Homo sapiens: one gene and its partner. The protein of the gene in region 1 interacts with the protein of each later gene in a pairwise test. Each region holds a gene or a part of one and is shown on either strand. Other genes may lie near its edges.

What was found. The genes of interacting proteins can lie anywhere in the genome.
Region 2: the proteins of CMIP (region 1) and ZC4H2 interact in binary tests that used the Homo sapiens proteins (3 or more experiments, as listed by UniProt).

Annotation. Positions count from the first base shown.
Region 1 is NC_000016.10:81,699,793-81,706,815, reverse strand, and holds part of CMIP (C-Maf-inducing protein), read right to left. Parts: coding exon 7,015-7,023; intron 5,157-7,014; coding exon 5,016-5,156; intron 4,195-5,015; coding exon 4,147-4,194; intron 2,878-4,146; coding exon 2,731-2,877; intron 1,318-2,730; coding exon 1,212-1,317; intron 1-1,211. UniProt on the Homo sapiens protein: Plays a role in T-cell signaling pathway. Isoform 2 may play a role in T-helper 2 (Th2) signaling pathway and seems to represent the first proximal signaling protein that links T-cell receptor-mediated signal to the activation of c-Maf Th2 specific factor.
Region 2 is NC_000023.11:64,973,440-64,981,122, forward strand, and holds the start of ZC4H2 (zinc finger C4H2 domain-containing protein), read right to left. Parts: upstream 3,012-7,683; 5' UTR 2,939-3,011; coding exon 2,886-2,938; intron 1-2,885. UniProt on the Homo sapiens protein: Plays a role in interneurons differentiation. Involved in neuronal development and in neuromuscular junction formation.

The DNA of each region.
Region 1 (7,023 bases):
TGAACAGAGCCTTCGTTTTCTTCCCACCCTCTGAGCCTCCCTCCCTTCTGGTCCCTCTGTCGTGTGCCCCCACTGCCTGGACCTGATGTCCCCAGAGCTTGCCTGCCACACCCCAGATCAGGCCCGAGGCCTCCCCACTAAGGGAACCCCGGATGGTCCCCCCGTCGTCATTGACTCGGTGCTGCTTCTTGAAAGCAAGCCTCAACCTCTGGTTTGTGTTGGAGTCGCACGGGGGGCAGACCCCTCCACCCACTCCCAGAGACGCTGAGCAGGGCCGCAGCAGGGACCAGGAATCTGTGCTGTTGATGAGGACCGCGCCCCCCCGGGGGACTCCAGTGGAAGCAGCGCATCTGCATTTGCAGCCAAACTGGCCGAGCGCTGCCGCTCTGCCTCCACTGACCCAGTCACCTGCTCCCACCTCCTCCCAAGCCACCCAGCATTTGCCAGCGGCCCGGTAGGAGTCATGGCCCCTGCTCAGGGTGCCTCCCCCTTGGCCAACTCCCACAAATCTGTCTTCACACCCAGACTCAACAGCACCTCCCCGGGAAGCCTTTTCTGACTCTTCCCACTGAGCCACGGGTCTTCCCGTCTAAAGCAGTGGGCCTGGAAAAGGGAAAGCTGGTCAAATACAGAATCCCGGGCTCAATATCCCTGAGGCTAGTTCAGTCACCTGGGGTTTGGCACACAGGAACTGGCCTTTCTAGGTTCCTTGAGAATTCTGTGCCTCCTTCTATTATGACAGGGCTTCTCAAATGTCAACGGGCACGGGAGCCTCCCAGGCATCTGCTTACCGTACGGTGTCTGAGTCAGGAGGTCTGGAGTGGGCTTGGGAATGTACATTTCTGACCAGCCCCCAGAAGACGCTGCCACCACTGGTCAGGGGACCACAGTGGCAATGTACTACAGCCCCGTCCTTGAACTCGACCCCTCAGTGGACTGTGAGTGTCAAGAGGCTATGGGCTGGCCTTACTCATTTTTTCTATTGCCTCTAGAATATAAGCTCTCTGAGGTTAGGGATATTTTTCCCTGTGTTGTTCCTGGCACATGGAATGGTGCCTGGTCCACAGCAGGTGTGCAGTGAACACGTTTGTGAATGAACGAATTTCTCTATCTGTGCATGGTGCAAAGTCAGTGCTTGGCCAGTTTGGCTGAAGCAAGGAAGGAATGAATCAAGCGGCCCCTCACCCCCCAGCTGCCCCGGAGGCACTCACAGCTCAGGGCCAGCAGGCCAGCGTCTGTGACCGGGGTCTCGCACAGGTTCAGCACCTGGAGCATGGTGAGGTGTTCCGACAGGAGCCGAAGGCCAGCGTCTCCAAACTGTAGAGCACAGAAACTCTCAGCCCTCTCCCGGCCACTCCTGGGGAAGTGACTCTGAGGCTGGGGCAGAGGTGGAGGAAAGGGATGGGGACAGAGCCTGGCTCTGAGGCCCATGGCCCACCAAGCCCTGGGGTCTGGGCTGCGTTCACGTCCCCTAAACAATCCCACGCCTCTCTGAACCGGGTTAGAATCCAGCTTCTGCTGTTGGGAGTGGAGCCAGGCCAGGGCCCCCTTGGAGTCAGTTTTGCCTCCATGAAGGAGGGCTTTGAACTTGTCTCTCCCTAGCTTCGAGATGCTGCCTAGGTGGCTTTCTCCTGCTGGGTGGACAGTGGAAGGACAGGGCTGGGCCGGGGGCAGGCTGCAGGGACTGTCCCCAGTTTCTCCTCTGGAAAATTAGGGTGAGGGTAGAACCTGCACTTCACAGGTGTGCAGTGAAGGCCCCTTCATCTGCCCTGTGCAGAGTACTGAGCAGTGCAGTTCACACTGAGCTGGGACTCAGCAGCCACTGGTGTTACTATAACAAAAAGACCCAGAAGCCTCCTGCGCAGCCCCCCGCAGGCCAGCGAAGCCTGGCTCACGTCTCAGCTCTACCTCTCAGAACCTCAGGACTCGGAACTGGGCACATTATTTCCAAATGGGAAATGGGCTGCAGGGCTTCATGAGGTCCTCAACCTCCTCTAGCCTCAGGGAGTGGGTGCTGAGCTTGAGGGAAGGGTCGTGTGGTAAGCAATGCCTGGGGTGTAGGCAGGGAAGCGGGTGAGGGGCAGGGAGGAGGGTGAGGGGGCAGGGAGGAGGGTGACGGGGGCAGGGAGGAGGATGAAGGGGTAGGGAGGAGGGTGAACGAGTTAGGGAGGAGGGTGAGGGGACAGGGAGGAGAGTAAGGGGGACAGGGAGGAGGGTGAGGGGGCAGGGAGGAGGGTGAGTGGGTGGGGGGGTGAGGGGGCAGGGAGGAGGGTGAGTGGGCAGGGAGGAGGGTGAGGGGAAAGAGAGGAGGGTGAGGGGGCAGGGAGGAGGGTGAGGGGGCAGGGAGGAGGGTAAGTGGGTAGGGGAGGGGGAGGGGGCAGGGAGGAGGGGGAGGGGGCAGGGAAGAGGGTGAGGGGAGCAGGGAGGAGGGTGAAGGGGCAGGGAGGAGAGTAAGGGGGGCAGGGAGGAGGGTGAGGGGGCAGGGAGGAGAGTAAGGGGGACAGGGAGGAGGGTGAGGGGGCAGGGAGGAGGGTGAGGGGAGCAGGGAGGAGGGTGAAGGGGCAGGGAGGAGAGTAAGGGGGGCAGGGAGGAGGGGGAGGGGGCAGGAAGGAGGGGGAGGGGGCAGGGAGGAGGCTGAGGGGAAAGGAAGATGGTACGGGGGAATAGGGAGGAGAGTGCAGAGGTGAAGGAGGAGGGTGTGGGGGACTGCAGCAGGGCGGGAGGACGTACCTGAGTGGACCACAGGTTCAGCTGCTTGAGCGAAGGCAGTTTGATGAGGTGCTCGGCGCAGGCACTGGTTACATTGGTGAAGGCCAAACTGAGGTTCTCCAGGTTTCCGAAGGAGCCGGAGCTCAGCAAACGAGCCAAGTCAGCGTCCTGCGGGCAGACGGGGGAGAGGCCTGAGGGTGCTGCTGGGAGTTCCCGAGACCCTGAGCCCTCCTATCCCCTATCCTCCTCCTCTCCCCTCGCCCTACAGAGAGCTGTTCCTGGGGGGCGGTAAATCCCAGGAGCTGAGATGGGGGCACAGCTCGGTGGGATGGGCCAAGGGGGTGGCCAGAGAGGGAGGGGCTGCCACGCATCCCATGGACGACAGCTGCCAGGCGGAGGAGAAAGCCTCCAGTGCTGTGACTCACACCCTGAGGCACCAGCGGGGTGTTCCAAGGCCACGATCCTCCCACAGGCGTCTGTGTGTGTGTGTGTCTGTGTGTGTGTGCCTGTATGTGTGTATATCTGTGTGTGTCTGTGTGCACGTTTGTGTATGCATGTGTCTGTACATGTGTGTGTCTGTGCACGTCTGTGTATATTTGTGTGTGTGTGTGTTGGTGTGTCTCTGTGTGTCTGTGTCTGTGCATCAGGGTGTGTGACTGGCTGCCTCACTCCTGGGCAGCAGCTCATGCCAACACTGAGGCCACACTCAACTCTAATGCCTGAAGACACCAGCGCATGCCTGAGCACCGGACTGGGAGGTTCCTAAGACAACCTCCACACTCCCCTCCATCCTTGAGTGTCAGCGGCCCTGTGGCTGCCCGGAATGAAGGCTGATTTAGTGTGTGGCCCCACACACTAAATCTGGAAAATGGGATGTAAGTAGACATGTCAAGTAGAACTTCCAGGAAGTTTCTTAAGAGGAAGGGGCACGTTCTCCTTCCTGCTGGCTGGAATGGAGACAAGAGGTCTGGAGCCTGAGCAGCCCTTTTGGTCCAGGAAGTAGAAGCCATGTGTCAAATATAATGGGGGCATCAGAATAGAAGGAAATAAGACCCTTAAAGACCTTGTGAAATGCGAATGGTAAGATACACAAGCTTCCAAGGGTTGCTGTGAGGATAAAACAAACTAATAGAAGAGCATCTGACACACAAATGCTCAAGGTATATCTGCTATTATTCCAAGTACTATTAATAACTAGATATCAACACTATTATCACCAACAATCTGTATCATATTTTAACTTCCTTTTTGGTTTTCATTTCTCTTCCTGTAACCCAGCTACCTCCTGGAAGAGCTGGCGTGTTAAGTACTAGGGGGTCCTTGTGCCCCGCCCTCCATCACCTCCCATCTCAGCAGCAGACACCACCTGCCGTTCCCCAACAGAGAGGACCAACCCACCTTCTCCATCCAGCCCCAAAGAGAACCAAACCAACTCACTGTGGACTTGGAGGGCAGTGTTAGCCTGGTGGGCCCGCCTTTCCTTTGCTGCAACAGAAACCAGGCTGGTTACAACCATTCTTTTCCCCAAGTTTCCATTCTAGACTTCCACCTCTGTTAACAACACTCATGGAGCCATCGTTATTTTCTTGGTGGTACAAGGCAACACGGTGGTCTTGGTCTCAGGGGCAAACCCGGAGATGAGGTTTGAGCACAGGTGGTTTACTGGAGGGTGATCCCAAGAAACACCAGTGGGAGAGTGGGGAAGTGACACTGTGGCTACCTATAATGGAAGGGGTGTTATCAATCCAGCTATCACTGGGTGGGTACTGGCACCAAATCCCACCGGGGGACTCTAAGAAATGGTGGAGAAGCCATGTCTCAAACATATCTCACTGAAGGGGTGAGGGAGCTGGGGTATTTCTACACACTCTCCCCAGAAGGGACTGGTTGAGGGCTGCTCCAGGAGATCAGAAGGCATGAATTTCCTGCCCCTTCCGTCCTTCTGTGTACACATGTGTGAGTATATGCATGTGGACATACAAAGTCCTTCAGCAAAGAGGTGTGGGTGCTGGCATTTGGAAGTTGGGTCCCCCATGTACTGAAATGGAAGGGTCTAAGGGACATGGAGGAGGGAGGGTGGGCAATGTCCTGGCCAGGCCCCAATGAGCTGTGTGACTCTGGGGATTGCTTTGCTTCTCTTTGATTACCTGAAAAGTGGCAGGTGGTAATACCAATTTCTGGGGTTTGGAGGAGAATTCAACGAGATTGAGGTCCACTCAGGTCCAAGTACTAGCTGCCCCGCATCCCGCCCTGGCCCCCCCTGGCCTGCTGGGCAGGGGAGTGGTCCGGAGCAGCCGGGGACTCACCAGCTCCTTCAGCTCCCGCTGCCGGTCACACAGCTGCTCGTACATGCGCTTCCCCACGTCTGTGCTCTCCAGGGTTGAGATGATCTGCAGTTGGGTGTCGTTGTTGTCGATGATGTTGTATTCCAGCATCAAGCACAGGATCTGTCCAGAACCGCAGGGGTGCATTACGGACCCGGCCTGCCACCCTAGCTCAGCACACTCTGTGCACCCCAAGGGCCTTGTTTTGAAAACCAGCAACCCCACTATCCCCTTTCTGCAGCCCCGGCTGTGTAAGCCTGGGCAAATCACCTGCCCAACTTCCTGCTTGTACAATGGTAGCACCAGTGACCACGCACTGAGGTTCTCCAGGTTCAAATGTCAATGGACATGGGAGTCTCCCAGGCATCTGCTTACCGTGCGGTGTCTGGACATGGGGCAGGCCCCCGGGGGATGTTTGCAGGCCCCTGAGCACTGGTGGAAAGGCCAGAAGTTAAGACACCTCTCTCTCCCCAGTTCCTTCCCCAGTGGCTGTCATGAAGTAGGTGCTCAAACTCACGGAATGGCTCAGAGCCCTGGGCCCATCTACCACACAGCTTCCTAGAGGGCCTCATGACTGCACATGTGGCTCTTCGGCCTGGGGGTCAACACGCCTGACAGCCCTGCCTCTGACATTCCCTTTCCAATGACGATTTTTTTTTTTTTTGAGATGAGGTCTTGCTATGTTGCCCAGGCTAGTTTCAACCTCCTGGGCTCAAGTGATCCTCCTACCTCAGCATCCCAAGTTGCTGGAACTACAGGTGCATGCCATGGTGCTCAGTTCTAGAACTTCTCACTCACCAAGGAGCAGGTCACTCAGCCCACGCTTCTCACAGCGCCTCTTGCCTGTCTCCTGTCTCCCTGCTCAGCCCTCCCCCATGGCCTCCGAATCCCTGTCACAGGACAGCCAAGATTAAATCCAAACTCCTTCCCAGCACCTCTAGGTACCCAGAAGGCTCTTCATGCCCATCCAGCCACATCCCAGACCTCTTGCCCCTTGGCTCCCTGTGTTCCAGCCACCCTGGCCTCCAGCAAGCCTCCGCCCGGGATGTCCCCACAGCCTGCTCAGCTCCCACCTTCCCGCTGCCTCTTCCCCAGGGCTCACATCTGCCCGAACTCTCATTTCCACGGGAGCTCCCATGGCTTTGCTGCGCCTGCCAACTCTTCGATGCTCTTCCCACTGAGGGGTGAAGTCTAGCTCCCACGGCTTTGACTGAGGGCCGGCCGCGGTGACTCACTGCCAGCAGGAGGATGTGGCAGAAGTGATGCCGCCTGCCTTCCAAGGGAGGCTAAGTTAAAAAGTGACATGGCTTCTGCCTTGGTTCCCTTGGGACAGTTGCTCTGGGAGTCTCAGGCTTCTGGGGACTTTGGGACAGTTGCTCTGGGAGTCTCAGGCTTCTGGGGACTTTGGAGCGTGCAGGGAGAGAGAGGAGCAGCAGCAGGTGAGGGGTGACCTGTGGGGCTGGGTGTGTGTGTTCTTGGCAGGTGGACAGGCTACCTGGAGGCCACGAGGTGAAGGGTGCGGCTGGGGAGCCCCAGCCGCCAAAGCCCTCATTGTCTGAGGCCTCTTAGGCCAATGCGAGAAGCCTTGGGGCTAACCCAACCTGGCCCCATCTGACTGATGAGGCCCCAGGTGAGAAGTGCGTAGCTGCGCCCAGGTACCCCAATGCCCATGTGCAAAAGAAATGAACGATCTTGTTTTAAAGCCCTCACTTAGAGGTGGTTTGTTACACAGCAATAAATGAGCAGAACAGAAGCGTCCCCAACCCCACTGATCAATGGATCAGCTGGATCACAACAGAAACAAATACACTGCATGATGAAGGCTCGAGGCTCCCACTAAGCTCAGGACGGCTGGGACTGCACGCCTCACCCACTGCCCCCCGTGCCTGCAGCAGCTCCTGGCTCCCAGCAGATGCTCTATCGGCACGGACAAGGGACGGGGAGCCAGCCACCCCACCAGGGACCCCGACCAGCTCCTTACCTCCACCAT
Region 2 (7,683 bases), on another chromosome or scaffold:
TTACATCTCTTTACATTTACAATCCCCTTTACATTCCCCAGTTTACAATATAAATGTGTTAAATATTTCCTCTACATATGCTGAGACCACACTAGATAACAGTATAAATTTAGCTTCAATTATCAAAATACAAGAAATTTCAAGAGGAAAGAGAAAGTCTACTGCATTAACCATGCTTTTGCTTACTGTTTATTGTTTCTTTTCTGTTTTCAGAGCTTACTATCATCTTTTTTTAGGGTATATCTAAATTCCTTAGTATTTCTTCATTGGAGAATGTCTTGATTACCCATTCAATACTGAAGGATATTATTATTGGACATAGATTTATGGGTTGTCACTTCTTTTCCTTCAGCACTTACAAAATGCTAGGGCATCGTCAGTTTCTGATGATAAATCTGTCATTCTAATTTTTTTTTTCCTTTGTAGCTTTTGTTTCTCTTCAGCTGTTTTGAAGAAGTTTCCTTTTTCTTTCATTTTCAGAAGGTTGATTACAATGTGTTTTGGAGTGTGTTTCTTTGTGTCAATTATGTTGGTGTTTGCTCCTCTTCTTGAATCTAAATGTTTATGTCTTTTGCACAATTTGGGAAGATTTTAGTCATTATTTTTCCCAATACTTTTCCAATCCTGCCCTCTTTCTCCTGGGAATTTGTTGGCATAAATGTTAAAGCTTTTGTTATAGTGCCACAGTGATTTCTATTGTTTTATATTTGTAAGCTATTTTTTCCCTCTCTCTTCTCCACCTTACTGTTGAACCTATCCATTGAGTTTTTTGGGGTTTTTATGTTACTGTATTTTTCAGTTCTAAAAATGTCACTTTGTTCTTCTTTATGTTTTATATTTCTTTGTTGAGACTTTCTATTCATTTTCTGAGATTTTCTACATTATCATTTGTTTCAAGTGTATTGTAACTGCTCACTGAAATGTTTTTAGGACAGGTGCTTTAAGATCCTTATCAGATAATTCTAACATGGGTGTTATCTCAGTATTGGCATCTGTTTATTTTCTCTTCTCATTCAAGTGGATATCTTAGTATGGAAAGTGATTTTTGATTAAAAGTTGGATACTCTGGATCTTATTTAAATCTTTTGTTTTAGCAGTCCTCTACCACTCTCTTGGATGGAAGAGGGACAGTAGAAGTCCAGTTTCTCCACTGTCTCTTGACATCCAGTTTGGAGAAGGGCTGTTTGTTACTGCTGTTTAGAGGTGAAAGTTTGGCCTTCTCTCTGGGCCTATGCTGATTCCATCCTAGCTGGTTGAGGTAGAAACTCCTAGTTACCACTGGTAAGGGTAGAAGTCATGGTTCTCCATATGGTCTTCACTGGGAGAGGTCTATTTTCACTGGGGATTAAAGTCCTTGCTCACAACTGGTCCTTCTCTGGGCATGGGGTGGTGGTTCCTTTGAAGCTTGGTGAGAGTGGAAGTCTAGGCTCTCCATTTGCAAGCCTAAGCTTCTGACTAGCTGCATCGTTATGACAGCTGGCATTCTACTGTACTAAGGTGTCTCACTTTCTAGCTAGCTTCTGATGCTTTTGCCAAAAAAAAAAAAAAAAAAAAAAAAAATTGCAACATATTCCCTTCTCCTTTCCAGACTTTACCTGGGACATAGTGGGAAAAGGAATACCTTTGCAGGCAGACCAACAAAATGTGGCAATTTCAAGCTGCGTGGCTGTGGGAAAATCACTCAAATTCTCTGGGCCTCTATTTCCCCAGCTGTAAAGGAGGAGTAGGAAGCTCACAGGACTCTTGCTGAATGAGCAAAAGTAGGTCAAAGGGCCTGGCACACAGGGGCGGGAAGGGACTCAATAAATGATAGTTCCCTTCCTTTACCTCTCCTGTAGAAAGAGAGATGCAACCCCTCAAGAAGAAGAAGAAACCAAGGTGCTTTACCTACCACCACTAATCACCATGTGTAGGTCTCATCCAGCACTCTAAGGGTTAAATCTCATGATCAAAGTCTTATTTCTTAAAGAAACACACTTGACATCTTCCACCTTGGGTTCTCAGAAAACACTCCAGGGAGAGAGCTTGACCCAGGCCACTCTCAGAGTGAGAGCAAAAGCCAAAGCAGGGGCTCACGCTGAGAAGGCGAGGTGAAGAAAGACCTTGTGCCAGCCCACACAGCCCGCCTGGCGCTATTGTGTTCTGAGCAAGGACAATATCATCGCTTTGCCAAAAGCTGCTCCAGGAGCAACCGTGTAGCGGACTCCACTTCGGCAACTCCCACTTTGCCAGCCCGCCTGTCACCTCCAGCTCCTCAGAGCAGCTGTCGCGATCCCACCATCAGCGCAGCGACCGCGTCCCCAGTCCCCATTGCTCCCATCCCCCTCCCAAGCGCGGGATAGGAAGGAAGAAAGTGGCGAGTGAGTGAAAGGAAAACGAGCGCGCGCCATTCTCCCAGCTCCGCCCGCTGAGATTCCTCTGCAACCCCCAGTTGGCAGCCCCTGGCAGCAGCCACCAGCCCCGATGCGCTAGACTTGGCTCTCAAAAGCCTTTCCCGAACTCCAGGTTCTGAAGTTGAACAAGAGACTGGAAAAAAATCCCGACTCCTAAAGAGCAAGGAGCCAAAGACACCTTGGGGCACACAAGTACTTTTAAAAAACGTGTCCATGAATGCAGAGCCCTGACCTCCACCTCGAGAAGAATAAAACTGTCTTGGTACCAAACCCGTGTTTCTTCATCTTTGCTTTCTCAGCCACATCTGGCAAGAGGTCTCTCTCTCTCTCAACTCTCCTCAGCGCCCCTCCCATCCTCACCTCTCCGGCAAGTCTGTGGTGAATGGGCCCCTTTCCAGCTCCTCTAGACAAACAGCCCAACAATAGATAATTAGCCCTCTCCCGCAACGAAGGGTTGGAGAGGGGCGGGGAGGGGGACAACGTGCCACTTACCTGATCTCTTTAATGCTTTCCAATTTGCACATGATTTCTTGCTCATCTGCCATACTTTTCACTGTCAATTTCACGTCCCGAGAGATGTACAAATACACCAGCCAAGGGATACAATAGACACAATGTAGCCACCTCCTCCGGGCTTGGGGCTATGAGCCTGTGCGGTAGGGGCTTGGAGAGGCCTGGGAGCTGTAGTCCGGAGCTTCAGGGCCAGCCAGGAAGCCCGGGGGCCTGTAGGACTACAACTCCCAGAAGGCCAAGCGAGACATGCCTGTTTCCCTTCCTGCAGCCGCACTTTAAATCAATTTGTTATAGATAATTATGTCAAAGGTTGTGAAGAGTGCAAAGGAATGGGGATATTCGTCTGGCCCGTGTGTGGGAAAATGGAGAAAAAAATATTCCTGAAGGCAATTGGAGAGATGAGAGACATACCCATTCGCTCCCTTCGGGGGCCCTCGCACCTACCCACCCGCAAAAGATTAGCGGTAGTCGCTAATTACGCCTTGGGGATGGAAAGAAACCCTGCAGGGAAAGTAGCTTTGGAGACGTTGAATGTGCTAGCTGCTGCCTGGGGACCAGTAACTTTGGCATTCAATTTAGGGTGGGGCGGGGGTGGGGAAGAGGAGGATGGGAGGAGGGAGATGCTGCAAAAGCTGGGGGAAAGGAGAGTGGGTAAGTACTTCCAGCTACTTACCCATTCAACAAACAATTACTTAAGCTCGGACTTTGCCAGTCAATGGAAGAAGTACTGTAGGAGTCACCGGGCAAGGCAGATAAATAAAAGCAAATCCTTGCCTTTGAGGAACAGAAGAGGCTGAAAATTTACCTATTAATTACAGTACAGTGTGGTGTCAAAATACAGGAATAGATAAGGTGTAACCTGTGCAGAGAAGATGTAAATAGGTCTCAAGAGTGACTAAGAATTTGTCAGACCATAGAGGAGAATGGGCTCTCCAGGTGAGGATACAATAGAGAGAGAAAGGAAAGGATGAGTGGTTCAGAGTGCCTGAAATATAGGTTTCTTATATGAGGTGTAGAGGTGGAAAAAAGAAATGGGAGATGTAGTATTTAGAAAAGGCAGGTAGGAACCAGACTATGAAATACGTTAAATGTCAGACTAAAGGGTTTGGACTTAATCCTGTAGGCAGACATTTATCTAATAAACTTTTAAATTAATTAATTTATTTATTTATGAGACAGTCTCACTCTGTCGCCCAAGCTGGCGTGTAATGGCACAGATCTCGGCCCACTGCAACCTCCTTCTCCTGGGTTCAAGCAATTCTACTGCCTCAGCCTCCCGAGTAACTGGGATTACAGGCGCCCACCCACCATGCCCGGCTAATTTTTGTATTTCTTAGTAGAGATGGAGTTTCATCATGTTGGCCAGACTGGTCTTGAACTCCTGAGCTCAAGCAATCCACCCGCCTCAGCCTCCCAAAAGTGCTGGGATTACAGGCATGAGCCACTGCGCCTGGCCCTAATAAACATTTTTTAAGTGCTTATTCTGCACCAAGTAATGTTTAATTATTTTATGTTTCAAAGCACGGTAGTGATAAGGATGGAGGAATATTTTAGAGAGGGACTCTGGAAGCAAAGTGGAGAATGATTAGAGGACATGAGACCAGGTAAGAGGCAGTTACTCAGCGTGCACAAACAGGCCTAGAGAGCTGGACGTTGGGCAAAAGGAAGATGGTGACTCACTCCCAACTAAAAGTGAGTCAGAACTCTCTCTGAGTTTGTGCTTTCTTTTATTGAGCTTCAGTTTCCTCATCTGAAAAATGTACCTAGTGAGCCCACCTCAGAGGCTTGTTGGGAGGCCTCTATGAGATCATTCCCATGATCATGCTGAATACAGGGCTTGGTATTTTGTAGGAGCTTGAGAAGTTTGTGGAACATGAATCTCATGTCATTCTGGATGTCCACAGTGATTTTAAGCATTCTCCAGGGAAGAAATTAAAGCCCTTCTCTTCTTTGGATCCAAGATGTAATAACTTTCTTAACCATAAAATTCTCCCTGGTGTCTACATTTTCCTATTGTCTTGAAGGTTGCTATCTTGTACAGCCACTAGTTGGTATTTAAAGAACATTGAGTTGGTTAGTCACAAAGCCTGTGGATCCAGAGCCAAGAACTGGCCCCAGCTCTGTCCCGTAAGGGGAGGAGGTAAGCAACAAGCCTGCGTTAAGTGCCTGACATGTACTGGCTACTGTGCTGAGTCTGATATGTACAATCTATCATTTCATCCTCACAACCACTATGAAGGGGGCAAGTAGATTCATCCCCTTTTAGAAGGAAGAAAACTGACTCAGATAGGGAAAGTTGTTTTGCCATGTCCACACAATAAGTTATAAAGCTAGAGCCTGTGCCCAGTTTGGACCAAGTTACTTGCAGATTAATGAAGAGAGTGTGTCTGGAAAAAAAAAATATATATATATAGCAACCAAAACTACAATGGGGTCCCGAGTGTATGTATCTATGTCAAACATAAAGTGGTTTATAATGCATTAATGCTGGCTTGGGGAGAAGCGGAGGGTTTGTATGGGATGTGTGGGAAGCAATTTATGAACAGCCTTTGAGATTTTAAATTTAATGTCTCTCTCTTTTTCCATTGTCCCCTTCACCTTAAGAATCCTTACCACTGACTATGTTCACACATCTGGTAAAAGTCTGGATGTGGGTATGTATCTGTTTCAATTAAATATGTTAATGGGTTTAGAGTCTGATTTGGTAATAATTTGGGAACTATCTTGTCTTTCAAGCCTCACCGAAATCCTAGTTTACAGATGAGGAAACTGAGACCAAGAGAGGCAAAGGACTTGTCTGACATCACCCTACTTGGCTGAAACAGAACCAAGACTCCTGACTCAAGGGCCTGTGCTCTTCCTATGGCCCCATGCGGCCTGTATCAAGCTGCTGCTGCTACCATGGGGCCTGAATGCCTCTGTTACTTTTCAGCCAGAAGGTGCACTCCAATATAGGGTGTCTGCAGAGGGCCAAGCATGTCCCATGCTTCCAACTATGGACATTTAAGGGAGATAGCAGTTAATCTAAGAGAAGAGGCCATGGGAAAACCTGGAGCTTGGAAGAAGGTTTGTGCTATTTGTAACAATTAAAATGTCCAAATACAGAAAGAGTAATGTGCCTCTTAGCTTCTGCTGGTTTGCTTTTGGCTCCTTGACCTCCTTGAGAACAGATGTCTCACCTGTTCCTTGCTGAATTTTAAGAATCCAGGCTAGCAGTGAGAGGAAGGAAAATGTTGTAGAGAAACAGTGGGGAAGAGAAGGAAACTATAGCCTTCTGCCCCTTCTTCTGAAGCAGCACTTAAAACAGTATCTGCAAGCCAAGGTGGTGGCTTTTCCATAGTAAGTGTTCAGTAGCTCTCAATTGATCAGAAGTTTGCAATGGCTGAAACAATATTTAAGATATGGGCTAGCAGTGAGTTCTAATGCATGATTTTATTAGAAGAACTGATTGATTTGAGGGGTTAGAAATAAAAAAAAATCTTAGTTTTATCAGGGCCAACATTATTCTTATTGCTAAGGCAATAAGGCAGGGTATGTTGGGGTTAATACCATTAAAATGCAAGAAATTAGCAAAAGGGAAGCCAGTCAGTCTCGATTATACTTTCAGGGAATAGATCAAGACTTTAAAAATGGAGGCCAGAATATTGAATTCACAGATATTTCTTTGTACTTCAACAGTGAACTAAACTAAAAGGAGGCAGAGATGCAACAACAGTCTTGGTTCCAAATTGCCTTTCAAAAAGTAGTGCAAATTACTTATTAAATTTCTCATTATATTTCTTAATCAGCATTTCTAAGAGAAAAGTGAGCCAAAAGTTTTCAGCCCAAAAATGTTTATTGTGCACCTATGATATGTCAGGAACCATCGAGGTTTCAGTGAAGATTTCATAGCAGATACGACAGACATGGGCCCTGCCCTTACCAAGCTTACCATTTAGTGAGAGAGACCAGCTATTACAAAGATCATGCATACATATATAGTTATACCTAGCAATCAGGGCTTGAAATAAGTCTAGGTTCTGTGAGCAAGACACACACACATAAGGGGAGAACCAATTTAGTCCTGAGAAGTGGGCAAGGAGTCAGGGAAAAGCTTCCTGAACAAAACTAGGCAGGATGAGAGAGGAAGGGAGGGAAACAGCAGGAGGTATCGAGGATTAATTCATGCAAACAGCCAACAAATATTTACTGAACACTTACTACATGCCAGGCACTCTCCTAGGTTCCAGGGATATATAGTGCTTTGCATGTATTAAGTTAGTTTAATCCTTGCAAAAACTTCACAGGAAGTATATATTATTATCATCCTTATTTTACAGAAGAGGAAGTTGAGGCACAGAGAAGTTAAGTAACTTGCCCAGAGTAACACAGCTAGTAAGTGGCAGAACTGAGATTCAAATTTAGAGAGTCTGCCTCCAGAAGCCATGCTCTCACCTACTATGTTCTATTAGTTACCCAAGATCCCAGTTCTTAGGAAGTTTACATTCTAGTAGGAGGAGCCAGACAATAATGACAGAAAAGAAAAAAAAATAAACATAATAATATTTGGGGGAGATAAGCCCATAAGACACTAATTGAGGATAATAGGACAGAATGATGGCAGGAGGGGGAATGTTTTAGTTAGGATGGTCAGGGAAGGCTCCTGTTCAGAGATGACATTGTAGTGGAGACATAAGGAGTTGGGCATACAATGATCTGGAGGAAGAGTGCTCCAGGCAGAACGAATAGCCGGTGCAATGGTCCTGAGTCAGAAAATGCTTAGCCTATGAAAAAAAAA